Homo sapiens: one gene and its partner. The protein of the gene in region 1 purifies or fractionates together with the protein of each later gene. This does not show direct contact. Each region holds a gene or a part of one and is shown in the gene's direction. Other genes may lie near its edges.

Evidence for each region.
Region 2: the proteins of SUCNR1 (region 1) and PRMT8 purify together in Homo sapiens (affinity purification with mass spectrometry; one large-scale study listed by BioGRID and IntAct). This does not show direct contact.

Annotation. Positions count from the first base shown.
Region 1 is NC_000003.12:151,879,938-151,883,765, forward strand, and holds part of SUCNR1 (succinate receptor 1), read left to right. Parts: intron 1-621; coding exon 622-1,611; 3' UTR 1,612-3,828. UniProt on the Homo sapiens protein: G protein-coupled receptor for succinate able to mediate signaling through Gq/GNAQ or Gi/GNAI second messengers depending on the cell type and the processes regulated.
Region 2 is NC_000012.12:3,494,190-3,498,017, forward strand, and holds part of PRMT8 (protein arginine N-methyltransferase 8), read left to right. Parts: intron 1-3,828. UniProt on the Homo sapiens protein: S-adenosyl-L-methionine-dependent and membrane-associated arginine methyltransferase that can both catalyze the formation of omega-N monomethylarginine (MMA) and asymmetrical dimethylarginine (aDMA) in proteins such as NIFK, myelin basic protein, histone H4, H2A and H2A/H2B dimer.

The DNA of each region.
Region 1 (3,828 bases):
AATCTTCTCTTCAATTATTTTATCATACGTTCCCTTTGTTTCTTTGCTATTTGCCAAGCCCTCTATTTGTGTTTCCACCTTAATGCCTTCACATGTGCTCTTTCTTATGCCTGGAACACTTCCTGCAAATATAGATATGTCTCTTTCACTTTCTTCATTGAGGTTTTTGTTTAAATGTCATCTTGTATAAAAGCCTCTCCCTTATCACCACATATAAAAATGAGTCACTGCCACCCTCCATCCCAAAACTTTCTAATATTTTTACCTTCCCATATGTTTTTATTCATAGCACTTATCATTATTGGTATCATTCATTGTTTACTTCCTGATTATTCTTCCCAAGAGAGTATAAATTGTTAGAGATTAGGAACTTTGATTTATTCACTGCTGTTATCTCCCGTGCCTGAAATTATATTCAGCACATAGTTGAAAGGTATTCAAAAAATTTGTTAAAATAATACATTAATGACATATATATATGTGTGTATGCTTTCCTTACTGATGTAACCTACTTTCTATAGTTCACCATTCAAGTGTTTTTCATTATTATTATGTTCTGCACAGTTTTGTCATTAGTCACAGTCTAGTGTTTAATCCTTATATTTTCTCTCTCTTCTTTAGGCATGGAATGCAACTTGCAAAAACTGGCTGGCAGCAGAGGCTGCCCTGGAAAAGTACTACCTTTCCATTTTTTATGGGATTGAGTTCGTTGTGGGAGTCCTTGGAAATACCATTGTTGTTTACGGCTACATCTTCTCTCTGAAGAACTGGAACAGCAGTAATATTTATCTCTTTAACCTCTCTGTCTCTGACTTAGCTTTTCTGTGCACCCTCCCCATGCTGATAAGGAGTTATGCCAATGGAAACTGGATATATGGAGACGTGCTCTGCATAAGCAACCGATATGTGCTTCATGCCAACCTCTATACCAGCATTCTCTTTCTCACTTTTATCAGCATAGATCGATACTTGATAATTAAGTATCCTTTCCGAGAACACCTTCTGCAAAAGAAAGAGTTTGCTATTTTAATCTCCTTGGCCATTTGGGTTTTAGTAACCTTAGAGTTACTACCCATACTTCCCCTTATAAATCCTGTTATAACTGACAATGGCACCACCTGTAATGATTTTGCAAGTTCTGGAGACCCCAACTACAACCTCATTTACAGCATGTGTCTAACACTGTTGGGGTTCCTTATTCCTCTTTTTGTGATGTGTTTCTTTTATTACAAGATTGCTCTCTTCCTAAAGCAGAGGAATAGGCAGGTTGCTACTGCTCTGCCCCTTGAAAAGCCTCTCAACTTGGTCATCATGGCAGTGGTAATCTTCTCTGTGCTTTTTACACCCTATCACGTCATGCGGAATGTGAGGATCGCTTCACGCCTGGGGAGTTGGAAGCAGTATCAGTGCACTCAGGTCGTCATCAACTCCTTTTACATTGTGACACGGCCTTTGGCCTTTCTGAACAGTGTCATCAACCCTGTCTTCTATTTTCTTTTGGGAGATCACTTCAGGGACATGCTGATGAATCAACTGAGACACAACTTCAAATCCCTTACATCCTTTAGCAGATGGGCTCATGAACTCCTACTTTCATTCAGAGAAAAGTGAGGGGCTTGTGAAACAGATTGTTCTACAGATGAATCTGTAAGCCAGTTACAGTTTGCCTTAACTCATAGACATCAATCAGAGAGTGTCACAGATTTAACCTTGATCTAAAGACAAGTTGTACCCAGAGTATGTGAAAAGAATGGGACGACAAGAATGTACTGGTTTCTTCCTCTAAGAATTGAAAGGAGTTGAACTGCCTTATGTTTGGGCATGTAACTCCAAAATACTAGGTAGTATAAGGCTTTCTCAATCAGTGCAAAAATGGAAGATATATAAAGCAACAAGTTGTCTGCATTTGATCACTGGTCAGATTGTAAAAAAAAAAAAAATTGTTTTGGCAACATTCTCTATGTTATTCTTATTCACATGATCCTAGAACTTTATGTGAGAACTGAATAGCAGAAGATATATTATTAAATAGTTTTTGGAAGTTGTGCTGTTAAGCAAATGTAAAGTCAACAGTAACAATGATTAAGAAAGGAATATAATGAGTTCAAAGATATCTATCTGATATATTTTTTATATTCATCATGAATCGGGGTAGTCTTGTAATTTATCTAACCTTTTTGTTGTATGGGTTTATAGTGGAAAGAATCTTAATTTAAATAAAAAGAACCTGAAGAGATAATTCAACAAAAGTAGAGAATATGTTTGAGCTTGTCAGAGAATTTAAGTATCAAAATACTAGAGAGATACACCAAGGATATTTGAATAAAAAAAAAATTTGTAGAACACAAAATGCCTATCAGGAAACCCAAAGCAAAACAGAACAAAAAGTGAATACATCGTTTTAAATGATGATTTTGCCATCTGGTATTTTATTATCATAATTTGACCACCAGTGCATGAAAATATATTAAAGTTCATTAGCCTTCTGCTCTTGATTTAATAGTGAACTTTAAAATATATTAATATCATAAACCAGCAAATAAGGAGAAATAAACTGATAATACTAGATTCATTGGGATAGTTTTCCCTTTTGGAGGGAAAGTCACAATTTTTCTCCATGATCCCCCATTTTTTGTAAACACTGGAATAATTTACAAGGATAACTTTATTGTAGCGAGAGCAAATCACATCTGGAGTGAGCCTTGTTTTCATGCAACATTACCATAAGACCATTGGAGTAAATGTTTCAAACAAAATGTACTTCATGAAATTATAGAACATAAAAATATTTATGTGCATATTAACCTGTATTATCCCAGGAGGGTTAATGAGGCCCCATTTCCTGCACAAAACAAATGTAGGGGAAAAAATGGGTGCTGCATTAGCTTTTTAAAGTCAAACAACTATCACATAATAATTCCTTGATATGCAACATAAAGTACCTATGGCCACATATCTAAGTTCCTTTCCTTGATGTCATTAGCTATAAGGAGTGAGTAATGTGAAGGACAAAATAAGCATTATGAATACAGAGACATAAAATTCCACTGTCCCTTCCTTTTCTGAAATACTCTGGGAGGTATTCTGATATTTTTAAATCCCCCAATTTTCCCAGTTGATATCTCTAGACTTCAAGCAACTGAAATATTATAAAAATGCATTAGTCACAAAAGATTTATTTTCTTACATCACACCAGGCTTTAAGATATTTTCTGCCATGCCTTGCCTTTAGTATCAATATTTTAAAAATTTCACTGTAATTTTATAACTGCCTAATAACAAACTGAAAACAGAACTTCTGAGTTTCCTTATCAGAAAGGGCCACAGAAAAGGCCTTAAGAAAGAAAGATTCACTTACTTCTGCAAACTTGGCAATCCGTAATTTAACTTTAATTTGTATTTTATGCATGAATTTTACTTGTAAAGACAAAATTAAATTTGCTTCCCCTACATCCCAACTCCAAGAAGTCACAGGAATAGACTCTTTCTAATAGTGCAGTGAAATATTTTTTCAAACCATAAACTCACATATATATATATATATATATATATATATATATATATATATGTACCTTGTAAACAAGAGGTTAAGAAATTTTATAGCACATTTTAAAATTATTTTCTTCCTCAAATCTATCATGTGGTAACTTAATCTTTAACAGACTTTAGGGCCCTAAACTAAAATTATAAGAGCTATTTCATTTGCTTGTTGTACTGGGTAATTGTAAGAATCACAAACAATAAATCATGAAAATCCTTTCTGGGTTTGTGGTTTCTAAAGGAAATAATATTGAGCTTTTGTATTTTGTCTTTTAATTGGCTCCCTGG
Region 2 (3,828 bases), on another chromosome or scaffold:
TGTACCAGGAAAGCTAGGTACCCAAGTTCCAAACATGAGGACCACCTGGTCCCTCCTCTGGAGGGGCTCACAGTCTCATGGACAACTATGATGGATAATCCTGTAGCCACCTTTTCCTGCTTTTTGTTGTTTATCTCATTCCATCCTCACAACAATCCTGTGAGATAAGCAAAGATTAGTATTCATTTCTTATACCCATTTTATAGTTGAGGACACCGAGGCTGAGGTCAAGCAATTGCTGAAAGTCTTCTGGTGGGTTAAGTCAGCCCTGAAACACAGACTGCCCCCACTTCTGATTCATTGCTGTTTGCCCTGCCCTTGCTATTTCTAACAAGATGCCATGTGTGAATGGGAGTAGATGAGGAGTGGGCAGAGAGGAATACTTTGGAAGGGAGAGATGCAGTGATGGAGGTGGGCAAGGATGGGAGAAAGTGTTCGTTCAAAAGCTAAAGCTACGGAGAGATACTCTAACCATTGGGCAGGAAGGGAGCAAGTGAAGAATAAAACTACTTACATTTTGACCAAAGCCTCCCTCCACAAAGCGAAGTACCCAGCTAGGGTACGAGAGCATCAACATCACGTGCTTGCTGGACACTGTTGGCAATGGGTGGCCCTGGGGGCACTCTTCAACCGCTCTGACCTCAGTTCCCTTCTCTGTTAACTTGAGCTGATTCTCCTCATGGAATAGGGCAGGTATGGGTATAAGGAAATGCCAGGACAGCCCCTGGCACATGGCAAACACGCAATAGTGTTAGTTCCATGTACGCTTTCTCCTGATCACTCAGCTATGCTTCTCTTCCTCGGCTAAGGGAATCACCATTCTGCCAGCCTCTTCTCCCTCTCCCCTGTTCCCTAGGTGTCATGAGAAACCTCCTCTGTGGCCTTCTGGAACATTTGCAAAGCCTCCAGTCCCACTCTCCTCTTCAGCCCATTGTCAGTGCCCAAGACACATCATCTCACCTCTGCCCTCACTAAGGCACTTTCCTCTGAACTGTTTGTCCTCTTCTCTAATCAAGCCTCATAATCCTACTGTACTGGATCAGCTTTCTGAAGCACAAATCTGCTCATGATCAGGCATCTCTTTAAAAACTTAGGATGCTGTCCTATTGCCTACAGGACGCTAGATAAAGCCCAGTTTCCTTAGCATGGTGTGCAAAGCCCATCAATACCTGCATCATGCAATTCTTGGAAAAGACCTCCGACTGCATATGTGAATGCTTCTGTGCATACTCTTCCCTCTGCCTGTGCCGGTCTTTCCTCCTTCTTCTCTCTGGAAAACAATCTTTTTCAACCTGCAAGACCCAGCTCAAACGTTACCTCCTCTGGGCAGGCTTCCCAGATCTGCCATTTATCCTCTCTCCCCAGGGAGGGGCATTACCCTTTCTTATGTGTTCCTAACGCCTGTCTCTCACTTTTCCTATTGCAAGATAATTGGCTTTTTGTGTGTCTATTTATATGTCTATTAGATAATGCACTTTTTTTTGAATTTGTGGGCCTGACACACAATAAGTAATAAATGTTAATAAATGTTGACTGAATTGATGTATGTGATTGTGAACAAACTCTTGAGCCTAATGGGCTTTAGTCACTCATGGCTTCCTGGAAATTGGGATTCCTATCTCCCACCCCACCTGTCTGCTGTACTTAGTTGCTGTGAACCTTTGAAACTCAAAATGGGTAAATATTCTGGGAATCAAGGTGCTGAAGCCAGTCAAATCATGGGTACATTTTGGTTATTCATGTACTTATTCAATATTCAGTAATTATCGACTCTTACTATGGAGTGCTCATCTGAATAGCAGATAAATGGATTAATCACAATGCCCAATTATGAACCATGGGGGATAATGGACCCTCCTGAGCTACTGCTTGCTTTACTGATACTTGGTGAAAGTCTGATGCATGATGCATTATTTATGGCGATGACTCCCTGATTAGGGTTTTATCACCTCAAAGGAGAGCCCCCAGGAGTTGGGAAACAGTTTTAGCAAAGAGTCACTTTGGAAACTGATATATATATATATATTTTTTTTTTTTTTTTTTTTTTTTTTGAATGTTCTGTTGACTTGCTGGCCCAGGGAGAGGGAATAATTACAGGTTGGAAAAAATCCTACAATGTGACAATGAGATTAGGGGTTGCAGTGAGTTATGGGGATAACTGAGCTGACTTCTTGCATGGTGTATCTTGGTGGTTTTGGCTAATAGATCTTTCTCCTCAGGAAGTTACTTTCAGCTGAAGAATGTGGTCCCATTATTACAGGGGTTAGGGAATTGAGGAAGAGGAGGAACCAGGCATAGTTCTCTGAGGATGGTCTTCATCTATGTCTGTTTCTGCAGAGTGTGTACACTAACTAGTAGGCTATGGAGACAGACTTCCTGGTTTTCAATCCAGTTCTGGACCTAGTAGATGTGTTGCTACATTGAGCAAGTTGCTTAATGTCTCTGGGCCTTTTAAGATTGTTGTGAAGATGAAAAGGGTTAATTTATGCAAAGGAATTAGAACATTGCCTTATACATGGTGAGTTCTCAATAAGCGTTTATGATTATTATCCTGCTAGCTTTTAGGAGTCTTGCCAAAAAAGTGCAAACTGAAAGTATTCTCCCACTTTCTCATTTCTGTAGCTGAAATGATCCATAAAACCATAGTCCATGTGACTTTTTCCTCCCTCCGCAAACACTGATTTCAGTCCTTAAGTGAGCTCAGGAGAATTAAGAAGATACCCAATTTTTTTTTTTTTTTTTTTGCCTGGCTAATTTGGCTTTTCAGAGTCCTAAATTGGCTTTTGGCTGTCAAAGACAGTGAAACACAACACTCCTGTCTCCAATTCAGGAGTGGGTTTCATTTCCTCCTCTTTGCTAACTGCAATGTGAAGTGATTATCACATACCAGTGTGGAACATGCAAAAATCTGTAAAAACAGTCCTTACACCTTGGAGTCTACTCTGCCAGCAGGGGGAAAATGGGCAGCCTGAAAATATGTGAACAGCCAAGGTAACTGAAAGCAGCCTCTGTGTGTGAGAAGCAAGCAGGTGGTGCTGTTGTGAACTGGCTTAGTAACAAGATAGAGTGAGCACAGGCAAGAAGGGACCTCTGAAAGGTCATTCTGTCCATGCCTCTGTCCCTGAGAACCACCTAACCGAAGATGCATTGTTGGCCACTTGGTCTCTTGTTAAAAAGCTTCAGAGAAGGGAATTTCCCCAAACTCCTCGAGTGTCTCAGTAGTCGGAAGTTCTCCCTGAAGTCTGAGCTCAACCTCTTCGATTGCAATCTGAGTCACCTTCGTTTATGTTATTCTAAAAAGAGATGAAAACTGGCTGCTACCTTTTCATTTGGGGTTGTCTCACCATTTTTACTAGTTTTTGTTCCAATTGATTCCAATCCCTTTTTCTGATATTCTGGTATTAGACTTCTAATAGGAATAGCTAGGAGAGGAGTGTTTGAGATTTGCCTCTCCAGTATTATCCAGCCAAAATAGCCACTGGATATTTCACACATCAAATGTCTTTTCTTACTTCACTTGTTATAAGAATTCCCTCAAGCATCACAGTTTTTCCCATATTTGTAATGAGTGGCCCATAAGTAAAGATCTCTTTTTAAAGTGTAATTTTATATTGAGCAAACAGCTTGATGTGCGTATTTTCATAAAGTCATAGAATGTTAAAGTTGGGTGGAAACTCAAATCACTTAAGTCAGGAGATAGGAACTACTTGTCCAATATCACAGAGCTCTTCCGTGTTGGGGTCAAGATCCTGTGGACTCCTGGGTCTGTGCTCTTTATACCTCCTTTAAACGTAGCATCTCATTTATTGTTTTTATTTTTTGTGCCAA